Regions from separate parts of the Homo sapiens genome. Here region 2 is linked to region 1. The links come from fine-mapping of genetic effects on gene expression. A gene starts in region 1. The other region holds a variant in brackets. All regions are shown on one strand. Distances are between the middles of the regions. Region 1 holds the start of CDHR2 (cadherin related family member 2). Region 2 overlaps CDHR2 (cadherin related family member 2).

What was found. PIP is the estimated chance that this variant, and not a neighbour inherited with it, causes the effect.
Region 2: its variant is the best candidate, but not a certain one, in a credible set for the expression of CDHR2 in prefrontal cortex (GTEx, PIP 0.68).

Annotation. Positions count from the first base shown.
Region 1 is chr5:176,544,935-176,556,101 of GRCh38, reverse strand. It overlaps CDHR2 (cadherin related family member 2), which reads right to left and starts at 6,760. Exons shown (of 32, transcript NM_017675.6): 1 at 6,688-6,760. It also overlaps the pseudogene RN7SL684P. RefSeq lists enhancers at 3,273-3,906, 5,555-6,488.
Region 2 is chr5:176,579,900-176,592,339 of GRCh38, reverse strand. It overlaps CDHR2 (cadherin related family member 2), which reads right to left. Exons shown (of 32, transcript NM_017675.6): 17 at 10,758-10,997; 18 at 8,081-8,150; 19 at 7,325-7,930; 20 at 6,315-6,386; 21 at 5,498-5,547; 22 at 3,158-3,309; 23 at 2,902-3,010; 24 at 2,724-2,812; 25 at 2,194-2,262; 26 at 2,010-2,087; 27 at 1,855-1,915; 28 at 1,653-1,777; 29 at 1,017-1,130; 30 at 856-936. Among named protein-coding and RNA genes, the nearest start is that of GPRIN1, 24 kb to the left of the region's middle. The variant C/T (reference allele first, on the strand shown) is at 3,526.

The DNA of each region.
Region 1 (11,167 bases):
GTATTCCAGGAGTTCAAAGAAGGTCCCTGTGGCTGGGTTGCAGGGAGAGAGGTGGGGAATCATGGGAGGGAGGCAGGTTGAGAAATCTGGCAGGGCCAGAGCATGCTCCACCCTATGAGACACAGGAAGGATGTTTCATTTTATTCTAAGAAAAACAAAAAACAGTAGGTCATTTCAGAGGGGGTTTTTTTTGTTTGTTTTGAGATGGAGTCTTACTCTGTCTCCCAGGCTGGAGGGCAGTGGGGCGATCTCGGCTCACTGCAACCTCTGCCTCCCGGGTTCAACCGAGTCTGCTGCCTCAGCCTCCCGAAGGATTACAGGCGTGAGCCACCACACCTAGCTAATTTTTTTATTTTTAGTAGAGATGGGGTTTTGCCATGTTGGCCAGGCTGGTCTCGAACTCCTGACCTCAGGTGATCCACCCACCTCGGCCTCCCAAAGTGCTGGGATTACAGGCGTGAGCCATCCACTGCACTTGGCCCATTTCAGAGTTTTAAGCAGGGGAGTGGCAGGCAGTAATTTCCTCTTAAGACCTTTCTGGCTGCTGTGTGTCGCCGGGCTGAACTGGGGGCAGCAGGGCTGGAGGGGAGGCAAGAGCAGGGCTATAGTTTGGAGGCAGAATATTTGGGATTCATAGAATTTCATCTTCACAGCAACTCATTTTGCAGATGAGCAAACAGGCTCTTGCTGGGAGTGTTCCGCTGAGGCCCTCACAGCTGAAAGTGAGTGGGATTCACAGCCACTCTCCGATCCCAAGGCCCTCGCCTCTCCCTGAGGCAGGGAGAAGGAGGCAGGCCTCCCGTGGCCCCAGGGCCCTAGCAAGAGGAGAAAACCCCAGTTCAGATGTGGACCCCAAAGCTTCAAAATGTTTGCCCTGTTGACCTACTCATCCAACTAACATAGAATAAGAAGCTCTTTTTGCAGAAAGTTGTTGACCGTGAGTGATTATTTATAATCATGGGAAGCTGGAAGTGACCGTAACATGAAACACAGGCAATGATGTAGAAAGATGTGGACAAGCCCTGGGTGGGATGTTTGGCAACCGTTAAACATTACAGCAATGAATAGCAAGAGACTCGTGGAGGAAGCACCTCCTGCCTCTCAGAACTTGAGCCGGGCACTACGTAATGCTCACAAAATCCCTTCGAGGCTGGGTGTGGTGGCTCACACCTGTAATCCCAGCACTTTGGGAGGCCAAGGCGGGCAGATCACTTGAGGTCAGGAGTTCAAGACCAGCTTGGCCAACATGGTGAAACCCCGTCTCTACTAAAAATACAATAATTAGCTGGGTGTGGTGGCACGTGCCTGTAATCCTCAGGAGGCTGAGGCCAGAGAATGGTGTGAACCCGGGAGGTGGAGGTTGCAGTGAGCCGAGATCGTGCCACTGCACTCCAGCCTGGGAGACAGAGCGAGACACTGTCTCCAAAACAAAACAAAACAAAAACAAAAACAAAAAACCCTTCTAGATTGGTACCATTCTACCCACTTTACAGATGGGGAAAACAAAGCTCAGAGAGGTGAAGAGCCTGGCTTGAGTTTACAGAGTCAAGGAGCAGCAGAGCTTCGCTGGGCAGTTCACTGCCCTTCTCTAAGCGTTCCCTCCCCTGTGAGAATAATAACCCCACTAAGTGATGAGGGTAGGCAGCGGGGGATGAGTGGGAATAAGAATGTGCCACCTCAGCGCCTGGCACACAATAGGCGCTCAGCAAGTGCAAACCTTCTTCCTTCCGTGGGGTTGTCCTCACCTTATGGCTGCTCCTCCCACTGCAATCACCATGGAAACAGCTTCCTCCCTCCCTGGTGACCATCCACGCTCCCCAGGGTCTGAGACTGCTTGCAGAGGTCAGAGCTAAATGGGCAGGGCCAGGGCTGTGTGTGGAGGAGCCCTGGGGCTGTTTCTCATGCTACCTTCCATGTGACTCTAGCCAGGGGAACCTTGGGAAGTTGCTGTGGAAAATGCTGGCTTGCCAAGAACCCCGGAGATGACAGCTGGGGACAGCCCACATGCTGAACGGCAGGGCTGCACTCAGCCAGACTGATAAATACAGATGTGCCCCACCGCTCAGGGGAATTAGTAAGTTCTCAGTCCTCAGAACCCCCAGCAGTGCTGAGCCACAGTCCTCAGTGAGACAGGGACAGCGATGTGGGTACAGCTACACCCTGGAGAGTGACATCATAGCGCTGGAGTCAAGGGCAGTGAGTGAGGTGGTCATGGAGGCAGGGTCCAATATCAGGATAGGGATCCCTCGGGGGTAGGGGTGGCACTGGTGGTGGTAAGTAGGGACGGACATGCTGATGATGTGTGTGCTGATGAAGGTGGAGACGCAGGTGGCGCTGGTGGAGGTGACAGTTGGGGGAGGGAGATGGTGGTGGTGGCGGGGCTGGCGGTGGAGACGCAGGTGAGCTGGGCATTAGCGGTACTGCTAGACTGCAGGTGTCCATTGTGTAAGGAACAGCCAGGGGCTGGATGCGTCCAGCCCAGGCATCCCTCTGAGGCTGTAACCTGGAACCTACCTCCCTCCTCACTTTTTTCTCTCATGTTCTGTCCTTCAGAAATGAGTCAACTGCCACGGGACAATTAGTCACTAGGTGTGCAGCCAGCAGGTATCAAGATGGATTCATCATCATTACAAAGTTCCCCTGGGTCCAGCCTGCAGGACAGGAGATTCCTGCCCTCAGGGTCCCTCCTCCCAGTCCCAGAGGAAAATGGGAACTGGCAAGGAAGGGCCGTGTACCGAGGCTAGCACTTTGCCCCCATTACCATTTAGTCCTCAGCAAACTGACGTCCAAGAGGGGAAAGGGCGCGGCCCAGCCAGTAATGGGCAGAACCCAAGCCAGGCCTGTGCCTTCTCTCTTTTCTAGGCTCCTGGGTTTTCCTTCTTGAGCTGCCCGATTTTCCCACAGGTCATGCTGAGCCCACAAACATGTGATGTTGAGAGAGAACAGCCCGAACCAGGACCTTCACCCAGTCCCCGAGGCGCCTCCCCCTACAGCCCCTTCCCCATACACGCCACGCTTCTCCCTCATGGAAGTGTCTCCCAACTCCCCCCTCCCCATCTCACAGGGCAGGATGGAGGGCCTCAAGAAGCCTGGGGACCCTCACTCAGAGCAACAGCGATGCCCCTTTGCATTTGTGTGATGCACGCACAGTCTCTCCCCTGCATGTGGGCCCAGCCATCCCCCTGGAAGGAAGAGCTGGATTCATCAATCCCCTTTATGCACACAGACATGAGTGCAGGAGGCCAGGGTTCCTGCCCAGCAGCTCCAAGGCTGTCAGCGGCAGAGTGGGGGTGCCACCCTGTCTGCCTCCCAGGCCAGTGCTCTTTCTTGCCTCATCCCTGCCTCGCCTGCCTCCTGCTCTGCTGGGGTTGGCCCCGGGTTTCTCGCAGTCCTGCCTCCTCATGATCATGATGAGGCTGGCGTTCTACAGTCCAGAGCATCTGCCTCTGGATTCAGTCACTTGGGGAAAAAGCACAGTGTCTGTGTGGGCTGGCGAAGGCGCAATAACGGCCTGCCCCAATGCTAAGCCTTCCCCATGATAGGTCACTCCCAAGCTCAAATCTCCTCCATGGCTCCCACTGGCTGCAGGACACACTGCCTGCCCCTCAGCCTGACAGGCGAGGTCCTTGGAGGTCCTGGGTCTTGCTTTTTCCACACGAGCTGCTCTCTCCCACTCCTGAGGTCCAGTGGTGTTGAATGCTCCTGTTCTCGGTCCACACCCTGCATTGTCCTTCCTCCATTTGCCTAAACCATTCCCTCTGCCCAGAATGTCTTTCTTTGCCTTCTGCCTACATGCAAATCCTCTCCATTCTGTAAGGCCCAGATCAGCTGTGGAGCTGTGTTCAGGCAGTTGGTGGCCCCCACTCTGGGCTCCTCATTTCCTGGTACCCCAGCAAGGGGCAGGAGCAAGGCACAAATGGAAACCGAGTGAATGGAGTTGCCCCTGGGCTGGGACTTGCGGACAGGCACCCGCTTTTCCCTGCTGGGGCAGCCTCAGGCCAACGCATGGGTGTGAAACAAGGTCCCAGTCACTGCACAACCGTACCCCTGGGCTCTTTTCTCTGTTTGCTCCTTTTAAAAATGGGAACTATTAACCGGGCGCGGTGACTCACGCCTGTAATCCCAGCACTTTGGCGGGCCGATTACGGGGTCGGGGTCAGGAGATCGAGACCATCCTGGCTAACATGGTGAAACGCCGTCTCTACTAAAAGTTCCCCAAAAAAAAAAAAAATATTAGCCAGGCGTGGTGGCGGGCGCCTGTAGTCCCAGCTACTTGGAAGGCTGAGGCAGGAGAATGGCGTGAACCCGGGAAGCGGAGCTTGCAGTGAGCCGAGATGCCGCTACTGCACTCCAGCTTGGGTGACAGAGCGAGACTCTGTCTCAAAAAAAAAAAAAAAAAAGAGAACTCTTGGCTAGGTGTGGTGGCAGTCCAGGCCAATACCAATAGTTCTCATTTTTTAAAGGAGCAAACACAGTCCAGCACTTTGGGAGGCTAGAGTGGGAGGATCACTTGAGCCCAGAAGGTTGAGGCTGCAGTGAGCCGAGATCGCGCCACTGCACGCCAGCCTGGGCGACAGAGCAAGACCTTGTCTCAAAAAATAAAAATAAAATAAAGTAATTTAAAATGGGGACTATCTATATTCCAGAAATTACTGCTTCCTTGTTCTCAAGCCCTCCGGCCACTACTGTTGTTTCCCTGCTCTCAAAAAATGCCTGGACCAGCCTGACCAACATGGTGAAACCCTGTCTCTACTAAAAATACAAAAATTAGCCAGGCATGGTGGCGCACACCTGTAATCCCAGCTATTCGGGAGGCTGAGGCAGGAGAATCACTTGAACCAAGGAGGCAGAGGTTGTGGTGAACTGAGATCGCACCACTGCACTGGAGCCTGGGCGACAAGCAAGACTCCATCTCACAAAAAAAAATTAGCCAGACGTGGTGGCGTGCACCTGTAATCCTAGCTAGTCAGGAGGCTGAGGCAGGAGAATCGTTTGAACCAGGGAGGCACAGGTTGCAGTGAGCCGAGATAGCGCCTTGCACTCCAGCCTGGGCAACAGAGTGAGAATCCGTCTCAAAAAGAAAGTGCTTAGGGAAGGACCAAAAAGGACACAGAGAAGAATCAGGGAGACTCTGGCCCCCACGCCATGAGATGTGTAGTCTCCAGGAATCCTCACTGGTCCCACCTGGCCCAGGAGGTGCCAGCTCTTCAGCCTTGGCTGAGAGGAGGCTTCAGCCGCATCTCAGAGCAGTCCACGGTGCCAAGATTTTCTAGAATTTGGAACCACTGGGAGTGAGGATACCCGGACTGCCCAGGACCTCCAGGAGGGTCAGGGTGGGGAGGTGGGTCCTCCTTCAGTGTGGGGAGCCCCCGGGGTGCACTCAGCCACGATGCTACAGAGCTCCCCCAGCACCGCCACCGCTACACGGCCAGCTCGCCATGCACTTTCACTTCTGCTTTTTCATTTACTTCTCACAGCTGTTCCCAAGCAGGAATTATCCTATCCTATTATTCCAAGGAAACCGAGGCTCATAGATGCCCAGAGATGGGTGAGCCAGGGGCAGCAGGTTAGACCCAGGCTGCCTCCAAATCCAGGGGTCCCTGGGCAAGCCTTGGTCTGGGCTCCGTTGATCCAGGAGGCCGTGCCTGCACCCACAGAGCGGACTCCAGCCGAGCCTGGGTGCCCGGAGCAAGGATGTGGGACCTGAGCACGCAGCTCCCCGCCACGGGCCCTCCCAGTGCCTATGGCCCAGGCCACCTGGCCCAGCAGACACATACAGACTCAAACAGCCCTGGGTTCAGATGGCAGCATTTCACATATTTGTTGTGCAACCCCAGGCAAGCCCTCTCCCCTCTCCAGGCCTCAGTTTCCCCTGCTGAGAAGCAGAGTGAGGATAAAAATCAAGGGGTCTACACACGGGCCATGACTTGTTTCCATCTGCCGGACCTCGGTGCTCACTGGGACCCTGCCTTGTGCCTGGTGCCCAACCCAGCACAGGCCTGCCTGAGTGACGCAGCATGGCCCCGACTCTCAGCTGGGTCACCACCTCCTCTACCAGGGCAGAGAGATGTGCAAGGCCCGGACTGGGCAGAGCTGGGGCCAGCCTGGGTCAGTCCCTGCCTGACACTTCCTAGCACTGGCTGAGGTGGCACTGGGCTCGGTCATAGGCCACATGCTCACCTTTGCCTCAGGGCTTTTCAGGCCCTTTCTGGAACTCTTCTCATCCCCATTTGATAAATGAGGAAACGGAGGCCCAGAAGAGTTAAGTAGCCCACCAAGGTCAGGGTGGAGCTGGGATGTGAACCGAGCAGCTGGGGTAAGAGCCCAGGTCAGCTTCCCCGTCCTCAACCCCTGAGCATCCTATGAAGGGGTCAGGCCAGTTACCTCGTTTCCCTGGGGTGCCTGCCTCCCTTCCATCCTCTGAAGAATCATCCCTTGAGGACTTGGATGGGAAGGGGGCCATCAGCCCCCAGGGAAGGAGGTATTATTATCCCATGTTTACCAAAGAAACAGGCCTCACAGCAGGCTGGGACCTGACCCGGCTCTGCCCCATCTAGCGTGTGACTTCCCCTGCCCAGCTTCAGGGGAGACTTTTAAAGACCCCCAAGCTTGCCTTGGCTCTAGGGATCCCCCCAACCCCCACATTTCTCTGGCCCAGAGACCCCCGATGAGCTGGATAGTCCCTACCTGTGTCCCCTTCGCCACGGAGGCGGCAGGCAGGCGCCGGACAGGCGCTGGCACACAGGTGGGCACCCTCTGCGGCCTGCAGCTATGTGGCCAGCAGACTTTGGCACCATCTCCACCTCCACTGAGCAATCATTAACCCTGCCAGAGACCACACCTCCCAGGAGGGGTCGACTCCTAATGAGGCAGAGTACAGCTGGGGGCGCCGGACAGGAGGAAGGGACCAAGGCGCCAGAGCTCCTGGCGCTCCTGGGGCTGGAGGCCCACACCACAGGAGAAGGGGCCTGGCCGACCCTGAGCCCAGAGGACCTGGGAACAAGGCCCAACACTGGGGCAGGCTGGAGGCGGGGACGGTGACAGTCAGAAGGTGATGCCAGAGCCCCCGTCCCCTCCCTGCTACGAGTCTTCAGTGACAGGGGATCTGTGGACAAGTGGGGGATTGAGTCAGGAGAGGGAAGTGGTAAAACAGTGTAACAATCAAACACTGTGTGGCCAGACCAGCCCCTGTGAGGTTCTCGTGGAGGACTGGGGGCTAGCTGAGCCTGGACAACCCACTTTCGAGCCTGTTGACACTGATCTCACCCCGCATTGAGACCCTCAAAAGGCATCTGCCCGTCCCCAGGGGCTTCATCCACTCCCAAGTTGCCTTTTTTTTTTAATTATTTATTTATTTTTGAGTCAGAGTCTTGCTCTGTCACCCAGGCTGGAGTGAAGTGGCACAATCTTGGCTCACTGCAATCTCTGCTTCCTGGGTTCAAGCAATTCTCCTACCTCAGCCTCTCGAGTAACTGGGATTACAGGCGTGGGCCTCCACACCCGGCTAATTTTTTTTGTATTTTTAGTAGAAACAGGGTTTCACCATGTTGGCCAGGCTGGTCTCGAACTCCTAACCTCAGGCGATCCGCCTGCCTCGGCCTTCCAAAATGCTGGGATTACAGGGATGAGCCACGGAGCTCGGCCCCCAGGCTGGCTTTAAGCGCTGCCCGATGTGGTGGCCTCCCGAAGGGGCTCAGCCACAAGTCCTTCTTATCCTCACTTTGGCCCAGCCATCACAGTTGACACAGAAAGGGGACCCTGGGCACAACTTTCTTAAGGCACACCACTGAGTCGTCACCATTGGGTGGCCCTCTTCTTGTGGGCAGAGGACATGTCTAATTCACAATAGATATATAGTCATGCACCATATATCTGTGTTTTGGTCAACAACGAACCACACATATAATAGCGGTCCCATAAGAGTATAATATCATCTTTCATGGCACCCTTTCTGTGTTTACATGCACAAATACTTACCCCTGTGTTACAGTTGCCTGCAGCGTGCGGTACAGTCCCAGGCTGCATAGGTTAGCAGCCCAGGAGCACAGGCGGTGGTATAGAGACTGGGTGTGTAGTAGGTGGTACCGCCTAGGTTTGTGTAAGTCACTGTGTGATGTTCACACAATGACGAAATTGCCTGATGACACATTTCCCAGAAGGTGTCCCCGTTGTTAAGGGTTGTGTTGACTGTATATCAGGCAGTTGCTATAGTCAGGCATTTTAATAGTTTGCTTCCCAACTCTCCAAATGTAAAACATAGTAACAAAATTTATACGCCACCAGCATAAAAAGAAGAAACCCAGATGAAGGGAAGTCAAGTGAGAAAAATAAGGGTAATCTACGCCTGAATTGAGGCCATAAAATACTTGTCTTGAGCTGGGGGCACTGCTGTGCACCTGTAGTCCCAGCTACTTGGGAGGCTGCAGCAGTAGGATGGCTTGAGGCCAGGATTTCTGTGCTGTAGGGCACTATGCTGATGGGGTGTCCACACTAAATTCAGCACTAATATGGTGAACCCCAAGGAGCAGAGGACCACTAGGTTGCCTCAGAAAGGCTGAACCAGCCCAGGTCAGAAACAGAGCAGGTCAAACTTCAGGTGCTGATCAGTAGTGAGACTGTGCCTATGAATAGCTACTGCACTCCAGCCTAGACAACAAGAGCTTCTCTCTCAAAAAATAAACAAATTATATATATATATATATTTGCCTTCAAGTTCTGGGTAATTGTAGAGATGGGTCATGAATCAGGTTCTGAGCTTCCCCCCAGGCAAAGAAAAAAGGGAATTGAGATCCATTGAGTCCAGCATCCATCCATTTTAAAACATTTGCATAGGCTGGTGGCTCGCGCCTGTAATCCCAGCACTTTGGGAGGCTGAGGCGGGTGGATCACCAGGTCAAGAATTCGAGACCAGCCTGGCCAAAATGGTAAAACCCTGTCTCTGCTAAAAATACAAAAAATAGCTGTGCACGGTGGCAGGTGCCTGTAATCTCAGCTACTCAGGAGGCTGAGGCAGGAGATTCACTTGAACCCGGGAGGCAGAGGTTGCAGTGAGCCAAGATTGTCCCACTGCACTCTAGCCTGGGTGACAGAGCAAGACTCCATCTCAAAAAAAAAAAAAAAGACCAAAAAGACCACTTTGCGTATAGCCAGGCTCTGGGAGCTATGATGCAGTTCTGAGTTTTGATACCCAAGAGGCTTTTCCTCTTTTTGAGAAGTGTTTCTGAGGAAAGGATGCTGCAGACACTGGGTAGCGCTCGATGCGACTATTACAATGCAGGGGTTAAGAGACCAGAGACCAGGCTCCTCTGGGGTCAGACTGCTGGGTTCAATTTTTTTTTTTTTTTTTTTTTTTTTTTGAGCACCATGTTGGCCAGGCTGGTTTCAAACTCCTGACCTCAGGTGACCCACCCGTGTCGGCCTCCCAAAGTACTAGGATTACAGGTGTGAGCCGCCCTGCCCAGCCACAATTTTTAATTTCATTTTATTTTTATTATTTTTTTTATCTACTGTATATTCACAATGGGTTCAATTTTGGCAGGGCAAGTTGCATAACCTCTCTAAGACGGTTTCCTTATCTGTAAGTTGCAGGTAATACATGATGCCTACCTGGGCAGGTGATGGTGAGGATGTAATGAAGTCACCCATTTGAAGTCCTGAGCACAATGCCCAACACAATAAGGTCTCAATGAATGTTAGTTTTCGTGGGGGCATGGTGGTGACTATTGCATTACTAATATCACCTCATTTAATCCTGCCAATAACTCCAGGGATGATTTTTTTCCCCATTACAGATGGGAAAATAGACCTTAGACAGATTAGATCACCACCCGAGATTACAGAAAGTGGCAGAACTGAGATATTAGCATATCTGTGCAACAATTCTTGCCCCTGACTTTCCTGCCACAGCCGTCAGATTCCTCTCTGAAGGAAGTAGGCACTAGTCATCGCTGGTGGCTTAACCAGTAAGAAGAGAGGCAGGTGACCCCACCCAAGGCTCCAGGCTCCCCGCTCTGCCTCAGACCATGGGAGTCAGCCTGGTCGCTCTGCTGTGCCCCAAATAGGGCAGACCCCAACCCAAGCCCCTGCCCCCTCTCCCTGCCCTTACGGCTGAGGCCGACAGCTCTGAGTCACTGCTCTGGTTGACAGAGGTGTGTCCTGGCCTGCCCAGACCTTTGGACCCATCACGATGAGGCACGTGTGGCCAGATGGTGCCCTGCCCATCTCGAGGGGCACCATCCACCTGCCACAAGGCAGCCTGGGAAGCACACAGGGATCTGGGCTATGACGATCCAGGTCCAGGTCTAGGTCCAGGGTTGGCTTCACGGAGCAGCAGGCAGCCAGGCAGAGTGGGACTAAGAGCCCAGGATATGGACTCAAGTGACCTGGGTCCTAATCCCCACCACCACTTACCTGCTGGGGGCTTGGGCAAGGTACACCACCTCCCACACTATTGGTGTCCTTGTCCAAAATGGGCCTAATGCAGACTCCACCTCATAGGCCTGTTCTAAGGAGTAATGATGTAATGCATGACAGCACTTAGCACAGAGTAAGTAATGGGGTGATGTGCACGAGGCGACAGTTTAGATACACATCAGGGTTCCTTCACAGCCACTGTCTGAAGTGTGTGCCTTAAAATTTTTTTTAATCAGAAAAACTTCTCGGCCGAGTGCGGTGGCTCACGCCTGTAATCCCAACACTTTTGGGACACTGAGGCAGGCAGATCACTTCAGGCCAGGAGTCCAAGACCAGCCTGGCCAACATGGTGAAACGTAGAACATGGTGAAACCCCATCTCTACTAAAAATACAAAACTTAGCCCAGCGTGGTGGCGTGCACCTGTAGTGCCAGCTGCTCAGGAGGCTGAGGCACAAGAATCGCTTGAACCTGGAGGTGGGGTGGGGGGAGATTGCAGTGAGCCGAGATTGCACCACTACACTCCTGCCTGGGTGACAGAGTGAGACTCTGTCCCCACCCCCCACAAAAAAAGAAAAGGAAAAAAGAAAACTTCTCATTACCTGTCTCTGCTATGTGCACCCACTGCATACTCAGAAATTTATCAAGTTGAAATCAAGCGTTAGCTTGCCCTGAAGTTAGGCAAGTCTCTCCTTCCCTCTGAGCCGCCATTTCTTTACCTGTAATACCTCTGACGCCCACCTAGTGCACAGCCT
Region 2 (12,440 bases), 36 kb before region 1:
CCATCACCTCAACACCAACACCACCACCACCACCATCACCATCACCACCATCACCATCACCACCATCATCACCTCAACACCAACACCACCACCACCATCATCATTGTCATCATCACCATCATCACCACCATCACCATCAGCACCATCATCACCTCAACACCAACACCACCACCACCATCATCATTGTCATCATCACCATCATCACCACCATCACCATCACTACCATCACCATCACCACCACCATCACCACCACCACCACGATAACTGCCACCACTACCATGACCACCATGACCACCACCATCACCATTGCCACCACCATCACCCACCACCACTACCATCACCACCATCACCTCAACACCAACACCACCACCACCACCACCGTCATCATCACCATCATCACCACCATCACCATCACAACCATCACCATCACCTCAACACCAACACCATCATCACCACCATCACCATCACAACCATCACCATCACCTCAACACCAACACCATCATCACCACCATCACCATCACAACCATCACCATCACCTCAACACCAACACCACCACCACCACCACCATCGTCATCATCACCATCATCACCACCATCACCATCACAACCATCACCATCACCTCAACACCAACACCATCATCACCACCATCATTGTTGTCATCATCACCACTGTCACCATTGCTACCATCACCATCACCTCACTACCATCACCACCACCACCATAACTACCACTACTACCATGACCACACCATCACCATTGTCATCACCATCATCACCACCAACACCATCACCACCACCACCGTCACTACCTGTACCACCACCACCACCTAGCCTGGCTGTGAGGGGCACTGCTCACCTGACAGAGTCCAGGTCATTGGAGGGAGAGAGGTACTCCAAGCCCAGGTCTTTGTTGGGGAGGTTCAGCATGGGGTTGGCTCTGGAGAGAAAGCCTGGTCAAGTTGCCTGGCCCTCAGCCACCCCACCAGGCCTCTTACCTACCCTTTGACCCCTGCTCACCGCTCAGTGTTGTACATGTTAGTCCCTGGGATGGCAGGGGCTGAGGGCATCACCCCTGCTGCTGTCTTCCTGGCCTCCTTGGCAGCCTTCATAGCTTGAAGCTTCCGGTTGTAGCTGTGGGGAACCGGAAGAGGGGTCACACTGTTGCTGCACACCTGTTGTGTCCCCAGTGGAGGCCCTGAGCCTGTGGCTTCACAAGATCCCGGGAGGTGAGTGTTAGCTCTATTTTACAGAGGGTAGAAGTAAGAGCCAGAGAAGGCAAGTGATTTGCCAAAGGTCAAATAGCCAGTGACAAGGCTTGAAGTCAAGCCCAGATACGGCTGCTGACTCTATACATGTTGGAAAAAGCAGCAGCATCTATTAAACGCATAGTGTGTGCCAGACGTCTAGCTGGGTGTGAGATGCATGTTACTTCCTTGAGTGCACTGAGGAATCAAGTCTCATGCCCTTTCACAGATAAGGAAACTGAGGCCCGTGGAGGGGAGGTGACTCACCCAAGATCTCGCACTGGGTCACTGGGGAGTGAATGCATGTATACCTGTGCCTAAGCCCCAGCTCCTTCTACCCCTACCCCCCGACGTCTTGGGTGGTGGGAGAGGGTGAAGGTTGGAGACACGGGGGCAATGGGAGCCGCACCTCTTCCGCACACACACGAAGGCCATGGTCATGATCACAAGGACCAGCAGCAAAGCCACTCCCAATCCTATGATGACACTGATGAGCTGTTTCGACAGGTCTGACTCCTGGCTCTCCTGGGAGCCCTGGAGAAAGATGAGTGTGAGGGAAGCACACTCGTCTTCAGCAGCCCCACCTGCTGCCCCGCCCTGCCCGCACTCACCAGCACCACCAGCCCCAGCTGCAGCAGCTGCGTCAGCGAGTCCTGATCATTCCGGATCATCCTGGCCACAGAACTCCACTTAGGCCCGAGGGACCTTGGCACACCCCAGGCTTCCTGCTCACCCTCACACCTGCCCCAAGGGCAGCCCCACTCACACACTCAGCTCATCAAGGGTCAGGGCTGACCCATTGGGGAAGACAAAGTAGGCATCGAGGTAGGAGTGAGGTCGGGCCCTGGAGCGGGACAGAGTTGAAGAGTCAGGAGCCTGGATCACCCAGCAGGCCCCTCCTGCTACCGCTTCTCCCCCTCAACCCCACCCCCAGGCCTCTGGGCACTCACCGAGCTGCAGAATCTATGTCCTGAATGTCCACAATGTATACTGTAGTCCTGGTTGCCTGGGTAAGAGCCCTGCAAAGAAGGCAGATGTCACAGAGGCCTGGGGTCTTAGCCTGGGCCTGTGGCCAGGGCTGTGCCAGTGGGATTAAGAATTGTATGAGTGAGAAAGGGCACCTCCTCTGGACAGCTCTGTTGGCTGAGTAGGTAGCATCTCTGTGAAAATTACAAAAGGAAATCCCTTCCTCTGGGGCTGGGTGAATAGCTTAGCAAGCAGAGTGCCCTTGTGCAACACACAGCCTTCACAACTGTACACGGCAGCCTTGTTCCAAGGCTTCCCTCTGCCCTTGGCTGGGTATGGGCTTCTGGGGACATGCAAGAACGTCGTGCAGGTGAAAGTACAGGGTTGAAGACAGGGACAAGGTCAAATGTGGGTCAGGAACAGGATTGAGAGACATCCCATCCAGGTTTTGTCGGGGACCAGGCTCCTACACCCTGTTCTTCCTACCCCTCCCTCCGGGGCTCCCCAGACCTACGCATTAATCGCCTGTCTGTTGGCGCCCACCTCCTCCTTCGGTGTGGAGAACTGCAGCCGCGAGCGGTAACTCTGGTCCACGGTGAAGAGCTGGGAAGGGGGTGTGCAGGAGATGAGGCACCAGGGACCCTGGGGGCTGGCAGAGGGCGTTGGGGGCTGGAGGTGGGACCAGCACTCACATTCAGGGTGGTGGTGGCTTCCAGGAAAGGACCCAAGGAAGGTCTGTCCCTGGCCTGGACTGTCACTTGGTAGGTGCCTTGGAGAGTGGAGTCGAGGCTGGTCACCGGCCTGCGGAAGGCGGGAGGCGCAGGTCAGTCTTGGAACCCAAGCTGAATCCTCAGGACCCTTGTAACCTCCAGGATGGGGGACTTGCTGCCTGAAAGCTCCTATCGGGCCCCTCCCCGCAACCTCCCTCCCGGGGCCGCCCGCAGTTACTGAATGCTCCCAGCGAACACGTCGGCCTCGGAGGAGGTGAAGATCGAGAAGACACCCTGGAAAGGGATGGTGGCCCCGTCCTTAGAGATGAAGTCTACTCGGAGGATGGAGAACAGGATGACGCCATTGTTCCCTGAATCATCGTCTCTGGCCTGGGAGCAAGAGTGGACAATATCTGGGGGCCCAGCCAGGCCAGGCATCCCTCCACCCCAGCAGGGATCAGAGGCAAGGGTGGCCTGGGAGGCTGGCCCTCACCGTCTCTATCCGCCATCCCCACGCTGCCCCGAATAAGCAAATGGTTTCAAAAAACAGTGTGTCTGCTCTGCAAATCCAGATTTGGACAAGAACCTGCCCCTGTTCCCCAACTC[C/T]AAACAGATCACTGCCCTAAGTCCCTCACATGTGGAAATCCTGCCCTGCTCCCCCTACACCCCTCCACTGCCATACTCTCTCTCTCTCTCACACACACACACTCACACACACAGTCTCTCTCACATACACACCCTCTCACACACACACACTCTCACACACTGTCCCACTCACACTCAGTCTCACCCTAACACACACTTACACACATATGCACACACACTCATACACACCCTCACACACACTCTCACACACTGTCCCACTCACACATACACTCACTCACCCTAACACACTCACACACATGCACACACTCATACACACCCTCACACACTTATCCTCTCACACTCACATACACTCACACACCCTCTCACACTCACACACTTATCCTGACACACACACTCACACCCTCACTCTCTCATGCACTCACCACACACTCAATTCACACACACTCACACAAATACACTCAATTCACACACATTCACACACTTGCACAGTCACACACATACACACCCACAATCACCTACATACCCACACACTGTCACACACATTCACATACACTCACTCACCCTTATACACACCCTCAGGCACACACATTCACACTTAGACACACACACACTGGCGTGCACACACACAGCGATGCTCAGATTTCCTAAGCACCTCCCCTGGGATCCCTCATTTCCGTGCGGGGAGTACCAATTCCCCTAGTAGACCATGAAGCTGGTTGGGGAGGGGACACAAGCATTTTTATTCATTCTAGTGCCTTTTAGAGAAAAATTTAACCAGCACACAGAGCTTCGAGTTCACCAACGTTACTGTTAAGGATAGGCCAACACCAGTGCTTAGGTCTTAAAAAGGAATCTATTTAAAGAAAATTGCCGTGGCTAAACTCTTGACATTAGAACCAAATTGGCAGAAGATTGGGAAGCTGTCTTAAGACTTGAAAGTCACACAGTCACTGTCTCTAGCATGAACGTCAACCTAGAGAGGGAGAATTACTATCCCCATTTTACAAGAGGAAGCTGAGGCTCCGAGAGACCCTGTCCTTACACTCGGCTCTAAGTGGGGAAGGCCAGCCCTGTCCATCTCTTGTACCCATGTCCTTTCCAAAGCATAGGGAATGGCACCCACATGCCACCTTCTGGGAACTGCTAGCTTCTTGTTGAACAGGGAAACGGAGTCCCAGAGAGGGTAGGCAGCTCTCCAGGTCAGTAAGAAGCCCAGCCAGGCCCAGCCCTCGGTGGTGTGGGAAGCCTCATCCCCACACGGCATGGCCACCACCCCTAATAAACTTGCCACATCCAACACCATAAACAGCTGAAAGCCTTTTTATGACTTGGCTCCAATAATTTATTTATTTATTTATTTTTTTTTGAGGCAGAGTTTCACTCTTGTCGCCCAGGCTGGAGTGCAATGGCGTGATCTCGACTCACCGCAACCTCCGCCTCTCGAGTTCAAGTGACTCTCCTGCCTCAGCCTCCCAAGTAGCTGGGATTACAGGCATGCACCACCACACCCAGCTAATTTTGTATTTTTTAGTAGAGATGGGGTTTCTGCATGTTGGTCAGGCTGGTCGCAGACTCCCGACCTCAGGTGATCCACCTGCCTTGGCCTCCCAAAGTGCTGGGATTACAGGCTTGAGCCACCGTGCCCAGCTGGCTCTGAGAATTATTTAATGACAAGGCACTGGCTTAATTTACAATTAGCTATGAGTTCTCTGTATTACTCAAGAATTCTGGTATAGTAAGAAATATCTGGACTGCAAGTGGTATTTACGGTCATGACATTTTTATGAATGCTACATTTATCACAGTGAAGTTTGATTACATTGATTAGACAGGTGTTGGTTTCCCTTCTGGGGTTTTCTTTTTCATGTGTTGGAGCCCATATATTTTCTTTCTACCATGGAAGGCCTGAAGGCCTCAGCCCTGTGTCCCCTGGGGCTCATATGACCAACAAAGGCTGGAGCCAAGAACTTACCCGGACAGAAGCCACCTCCCGGTTGGGCAGCACGAGTTCAGGGATGATCACTGCAGGTGTGAACGGGAACGGGGTCAGCGGGGTCGGGACACTGCCCACCTGGACCAAGGCTGGTCACGAGCCCAGCTCAGGGCTCATCCCCCTAAACCTGCCCTCAACCTCTCTACCAAAAGAGACCCCTATTACAGCCACCACTGGGCCAGTAGTTAGCAAGTCATCCACCTCCCATTGTCACAGGTGAGGTCACAGGCCCACAGGACCATGCGGAAATGGAGGCCCAGAGAGGGAAGTCCTGGCCCAGGGCCAGACATTAGGTCGGACAGAGCTGGAATGAAAACTCCAGTGTTGGCTGGGCATGGTGGCTCATGCCTATAATCCCAGCACTTTGGGAGGCCAAGGCGAGCAGATCACTTGAGGCCAGGAGTTCAAGACCAGTCTGGCCAACACAATGAAACCCTGTCTCTACTAAAAATACAAAAATTAGCCAGGTGTGGTGGCGCATGCCTGTAGCCCCAGCTACTCTGGAGGCTAAGGCATGAGAATTGCTTGAACCTGGGAGGCGGAGGTTGCAGTGAGCTGAGATCGTACCATTGCGCTCCAGCCTGGGCGACAGAGCAAGACTCCGTCTCAAGAAAAAAAGGAAAGAAAAAAGAAAACTCCAATGTCCTCTCCTATTGCAGCCCTAGGAAGATGCAGGATTAGAGGCCTTCCCCCCTTTCTAAAGGCTCCCCCTGGGGTCCAAGGAGGGTCTGTCGGGGTTGCTCAAAGGCGGCCTTATGGAGCAGGGGTATGGTGTGTGAATGGGGTTGCTGCTTACCAAAAGTCTTATTCTCAGGCAGAAAATAGGGTGCATTGTCATTCACGTCCTCAATGGTAATGAGGAGGCTTCCTAGGAGACAAGGTCAGCTGGCTTTGGCTCTGGGCAAAAGCTTGACCCAAAGAGCCTGGGCCTCAACCCTGTGCCCCACAGCCTCAACCCCATGCCCCGCAGCCTCAACCCCGTGCCCCGCAGCCTCAACCCTGTGCCCCGCAGCCTCAACCCCGTGCCCCGCAGCCTCAACCCCATGCCCCGCAGCTTCTCTCCCATGTGTTCCCCCATGCTCAGTCCCCTTCCCTGCTCCTGACCCAGAATGCCTGATCGGTCTTCTCTGGCCTGTGTGGGTGGGAGTATCATCCCAGACCTCAGAGCAGATAAGCAGCTTGTCAAAGTCACACAGCAATAGTGGTGGGCCAGGATTGGGCCCAGCCTAGGTAGATCTCACCTATGACATTATACTGACACATTCTAACTATATAAGCTGGTTGTTTAAATACCCACTTTCTGCCTCAGTTTCCTCATCTATAAAATTGGATAGGGAACACCTACCCCATGGGTTGTGTGGAAGTGGAAAAATTCTTACAAGGTGCCTGGTGTAGTTCTTGGCTGTCATAAGGACTCAATATATGCTAGTTGTTAATGTGATTATTATTGCTATTTGGTGTCAGAAGTGGGATACAAGCACACATCTAGCTCTGCAGTGTTATCTTTCTTTCACAGCATCTTGTAAAATAATGGCATTAATTTGATGCTACTGCATGCCAGGCACTGCAATAAATGCCATACATCCATATTCTCATTGAATCTTCACAGCCCACCCCACTGCCCAACTCCACTGGACAGATGGGGAAACTGAAGCTTGGAGAGGGTTTGGGACTTTCCCAGTATTTGCAGCTGGAAAGGGCTGGAGCCAAGATCTGAGCCCAGACCTTGTGAGTTCCAGCCCAGGGCTCCTTCCCGCGGCCCCTAAGCTATGGCCTGCCAAGCCCTGCAAGGACAGGCTGCCTTACCATTGTTGCTGTAGGCCTGGAAGCCGGGGTCCGTGGCTAGGTCACAGGCCCGCACAACCAGCGTGACCAGGTCACAGGCCTCGTAGTCGATGGCTTTGCTCTGGTTGATGTACACAGAGCCGTTGGCCGCCACTGAGAACCAGCCCCAGCATAGGCTGCCCACATCGACCCCGGCCTTGGTGCAGAGAATGTTCACAAGCTGTATCTCCAGCTGGGCACTGGTGTCCACATCCGAGGCAACCACCACAGCCACCTGGCCGTGCTGTGAGCCATTCTCAGCCACACGGATGCCCCGGAGTGAGGCTACATCCAGGGTGGGGGGATTGTCGTTCACGTCTTTCACATTCACGCAGACGTCTACTATGGTCTCACCCCCCTGGGGGTCTGGGTTCTCAGCACTCACTGTCAAGTTGAAGACGGGCTGTGTCTCGTAATCCAGGCTCACGTCCGGGGGCAGCCGGAGGTAGCCCTCAGCCCACCCAGCCCCCAGCACCAAGCCTCGGATCATGAAGTAGTTGGCACCACTCCCCGACAGGCTGAAGCTGATGCGGTTGTTGGCTTCCGTCTGGTCCGCGTCCCAGGCCTTCACCACGCCCACTAGCACTCCTGTGGACAAGGGGCAGAGCTCAGAAGGACTCCTGACCCCGCCATCGGAAGCCTCCTCTGCCCTTGCCTCTCTTGGAACTCGAGGTCCACCCTGACAAAGCCACACTGGGTCCCAGCCGCAGTGTCTCTCCTGGCCCAGGGAGCACATACCTGGATCCTCCTCCTTCACCGTAAAGTTGTAGCTGGACTGATTGAAGATGGGCAGGTTATCATTGATGTCCTGCAGTCAGAGACAGGTCTGAGTCCCCGGGATCCAATCTCACCCTCCCCAGAGCCAATCCGAGAAACCAATAATCCCTGTGCTCCAAGGCATGGACTCTACTAGTGCCTCAGACCTCACTGCCCACTTCCCAGATGAGGAGACAGGCTCTGAGAGGAGGGAACTTGCCCAGGTCACACACCCGGGGTTCAGGGACCTACAGTGGGACCTTGGCCTTACACATCCATCCTCAGGAAGCCCTGCTTGCTTCCTGTTTCTCTGACCACAGCTCAGGACTTGTTCTAGACCCTGCTTTCTAGAAGCACAGTTCTGGGTCCCCACCTGCGACCCTGCCTGGCCCAGCTTGACTCCCATCTCTCGGATTTATTGTGTTGGCACCAATACCATTATATGTCCACAAAGGCTCCAAGGCCCACACTTTCCCTTGTCCCCTCCTACCCCTGTCCCTCCTGCACACAACTGAGCCCACAACACCAGCTCTGTGCTCAGTCAGAGCTGGGCTCCGGGGACCTGCAGAAGCTTAGACCTGCTCCTGCCTCAGACACCAGCTGTTTTTGGCTCTCACCTCTGTGGCCAGCCCTAGCCCACTGGGCACAGCTGGAGCCCTGCAACTATTGTCACAGCCTGGAGGTGACTCTGCCCTCCCCTATGTCTCCTAACACTGGCATGTGCTTGGGGGATGCCCTGAGCACTCCAGCCCTTCCCAGGTTTGTGGGTCACATAACAGGTGTTTGTTTTTCTGAATAACCCTAGAATGAACATTTGGAAGACAACATTCTTGCACCTTAGCTAGATGTCTTTTCTGCTGCTAATTTCCCAGCGATGACATCATTGGCTCCACGCACAAGACCAGCTGCATTCTCAAGGTCACCCTAACTCACAGGAGTGGATAAGAGCACTGAGTCACATCTTGCTCCACCTCTGCCTCATGTGTGACCTTGACCTCTCTGGACCTCAGTGTCCTCATCTGCAAAATGGGGTAGTAGTCCCCACTAATAGGGCAATTGTGAGGACGGCTCACAGGGGTGAAGAAACCTGTTCACTCAGGAAATGAAGTTCTCTCTTTGCAGCCCTCCCACCCTAAGGACAACCAGCAAGTCCTCATTCTGCTTCGTTTTCTTCATTTCTGAGGTCTCACTCTCTGACCCTTGTGTGAAAATGGCACATCCCAGTCCAGGGGACACAGGGCTGCTATGTGCAGTGGTGCAGGCTGTGCACTGCACAACCCTATGGGGTGCCATCCACATCACAGACACGGCAGAGGTGCACATTTGTCACAATACTGTTCCAGAGGAAGGTGCCTTGTGGGCTGGTGGCAGCCTTAGAACCAGACTGATTGAAGTCAAAACCCAATTTTGTGACCCCCAGGCAAGGTACTGAACCTCTCTGTGCCTCAGTTTCTTTTTTTGAGACAGGGTCTTGCTCTGTCTCACAGGCTGGATTGCAGTGGCATGATCATAGCTCACCGCAGCCTCAACCTCCTGGGCTGAAATGATCCACCTGCCTCAGCCTTCCAAGTAGCTGGGACTTCAGGTACATGCCACCATGCCTGGCTAATTTTTTATTTTAGTAGAGATGGGGTCTCGCTATGTTGCCCAGCCCAGTCTCAAACTCCTGGGCTCAAGCAATCCTCTCACCTTGGCCTCCCAAAGTACTGAGGTTTTTGGCATGAGCCACAGCAACTAGGCCCGCCTCAGTTGCTCAATCAATAAAACGGTAATAAACCGGGCTCAGTGACTTATGCCTGTAATCCCAGCATTTTGTGAGGCTGAGTTGAGAGGGTCGCTTGAGGCCAACAGTTCAAAATTGGCCTGGACAATAAGTGAGACTCTGATTCTATGAAAAATAAATTTTAAAAATTAGCCAAATTAGCCAGGCATGGTGGCACGCATCTTTAGTCTTAGCTACTTAGGAGGCCAAGGCGGGTGGATCGCTTGAGCTCGGGAGTTCAAGACCAGCCTGGGCAACATGGAAAAACCCCATCTCTACAAAAATAAAAAAATTAACCAGGCATGGTGGCATATGCCTATAGTCCCAACTACTCAGGAGGCTGAGGCAGGAGGATCGCTTGAGCCTGGGAGGTTGAGTCTGCAGTGAGCCATGATGGCACTATTGCACTGCAGCCTGGGTGACAAAGGGAGACCCTGTCTCAAAAATAAATAAATCAATAGATAAATAAATAAAAACAAAATGGTAATAACCATCCCAACCTTGGCGGATGCCCTGATGTGCAATAGACACCAGCAATGCTGATTTTCACCCCTTCCCTTTGCTTTTCAATGGTGGCAGGGAGACAGGAGGGTTTCAGGTGGGACTTTATGAGTGACAATTAGAGCTGATATTCACTGATACTGTCTATAGGTCAGGCACTCTACCAAGCACTTTCCATTCATTAACTCACTTAATCTTTAACCTTTTTCACCCCCGTTTTATAGATGAGGAGCCTGAGTGCCTAGGGAGGTTGAGTAATTGCCTGGGGCCATACGAGTGAGCGGGATTGTAACCCAGGCAGGCTGGCTGCAGAGGGCAGAAGTGTGACTCAAGCTGGAGGGGCTGGCTATCGGCTTGGGAGGCCCCCAGGCCCATCCTGGCTAAGCGAGGCCTTACCTCCACAGTGATGGTGACATTGACTTTGGTGCCGAGGACAGGCTCGCCGCAGTCAGACACAAGCACTGTCAGCACAATGCGGCCCTCCAGGGCGGGGTCGATGGCCTCTCTGTCCAGGGGCCCCAGGTTTCTGAGGAGCCCTGTGTCAGGGTCCAAGGAGAAGTTGTGGCTGTAGGGGCCAGGCAGCAGGTTGAAGAGCAGACGGCTGTTGTTGGTGCCCGGCTCATCATTGTCGTGGGCCTGTGCACGTAAGCAGGGGTTGGTCATCGGCCATCGGCATTCCCAGCCCCCAGCCCCTCCGATGCAGCCGGACCCTCCTCTCCAGCGCTGGCCCACGCAGGCAGTCATCAGGCCTGGAGCCCCTGGGCCCATCTCCCAGCCCCAGTTTCCCATCTAAGAGGCTCAGGTCAGCAGTTTGCAAGAGCTTCTGAGATCTTCAGCACTGAGGCCATTCTTTCATCTCACAAACGGCCACTGTGGACCTACGTGCCCAGCCCCGTTCCAGGTGCAAAGAAAGAATAGAGCCATCATCAAGACAGGCCCTTTTGCTACTGATATTCTAGCAGGAAGGGGGATATGGGGGCAGGAAATTGTAGACAAAGAAAGTTTTAAACTCATAAGTGTGAAGTCCAGCAAGATTCTCATTTTCCCATAATGACTACTTCAGTGCTATATACATATTTTTTCTTTTTTCTTTTTTCTTTCATACAGTTTCGCTCTTGTTGCCCAGGCTGGAGTGCAATGGTGCGATCTCTCTTGCTCACTGCAAACTCCTTCTCCTGGGTTCAAGTGATTCTCCTGCCTCAGCCTCCTAAGTAGCTGGGATTACAGGCACCCACCACCACACCAGGCTAATTTTTTGTATTTTTTAGTAGAGATGGGGTTTCACCATGTTGGCCAGGCTGGTCTTGAACTCCTAACCTCAGGTGATCCACCTGCCTCAGCTTCCCAAAGTGCTGGGATTACATACAGGCGTGAGCCACCACGTCTGGCCCTTCTTTTGTTTTGTTTTGTTTTCTTTTTTTTCTTTCTTTCTTTCTTTTTTTTTTTTTTTGAGGTGGAGTCTCACTCTGTTGCCCAGAGTGGAGTGCAGTGCCATGATCTCAGCTCACTGCAGCTTCCAATTCCTGGATTCAAGTGATTCTCCTGCCTCAGCCTCCCAAGTAGCTGGGATTACAGGCATGCACCACCACACCCAGCTAATTTTTGTAATTTTAGTAGAGATGGGGTTTCACTATGTTGGCCAGGCTGGTTTCGAACTCCTGATCTCAAGTGATCCACCCACCTCGGCCTCCCAAAGTGCTGAGATTACAGGCAGGAGCCACCATGCCCGGCCGTCAGCGCTATATGTTTTAAATAGCTGATTCTTCACTCACTTTGTATGTCTGTGAGTGCGTGTGTGAGTGTGTGTGAGTGCGTGTGTGAGTGTGTGTGTGAGTGCGTGTGTGAGTGCGTGCGTGAGTGTGTGTGTGTGTTCCTGTCCTGCCAGGGCCCTGAAGGCATGCTTGGTTTGTCTTTGGGGTGAACCAGTGTGGATAACACAGCGGGTTCCTCTGTGCCGCCAGGCCTTTGCAGGTTCCGTTCCCTCACCCCGATGCCTCCCACACCTTCCCTGCCTGACTCCAGGCCAGGTTGGCGCTTCCTCTGGGCCTCAACATAGCACAGGTGACACCGCTGGGTGAC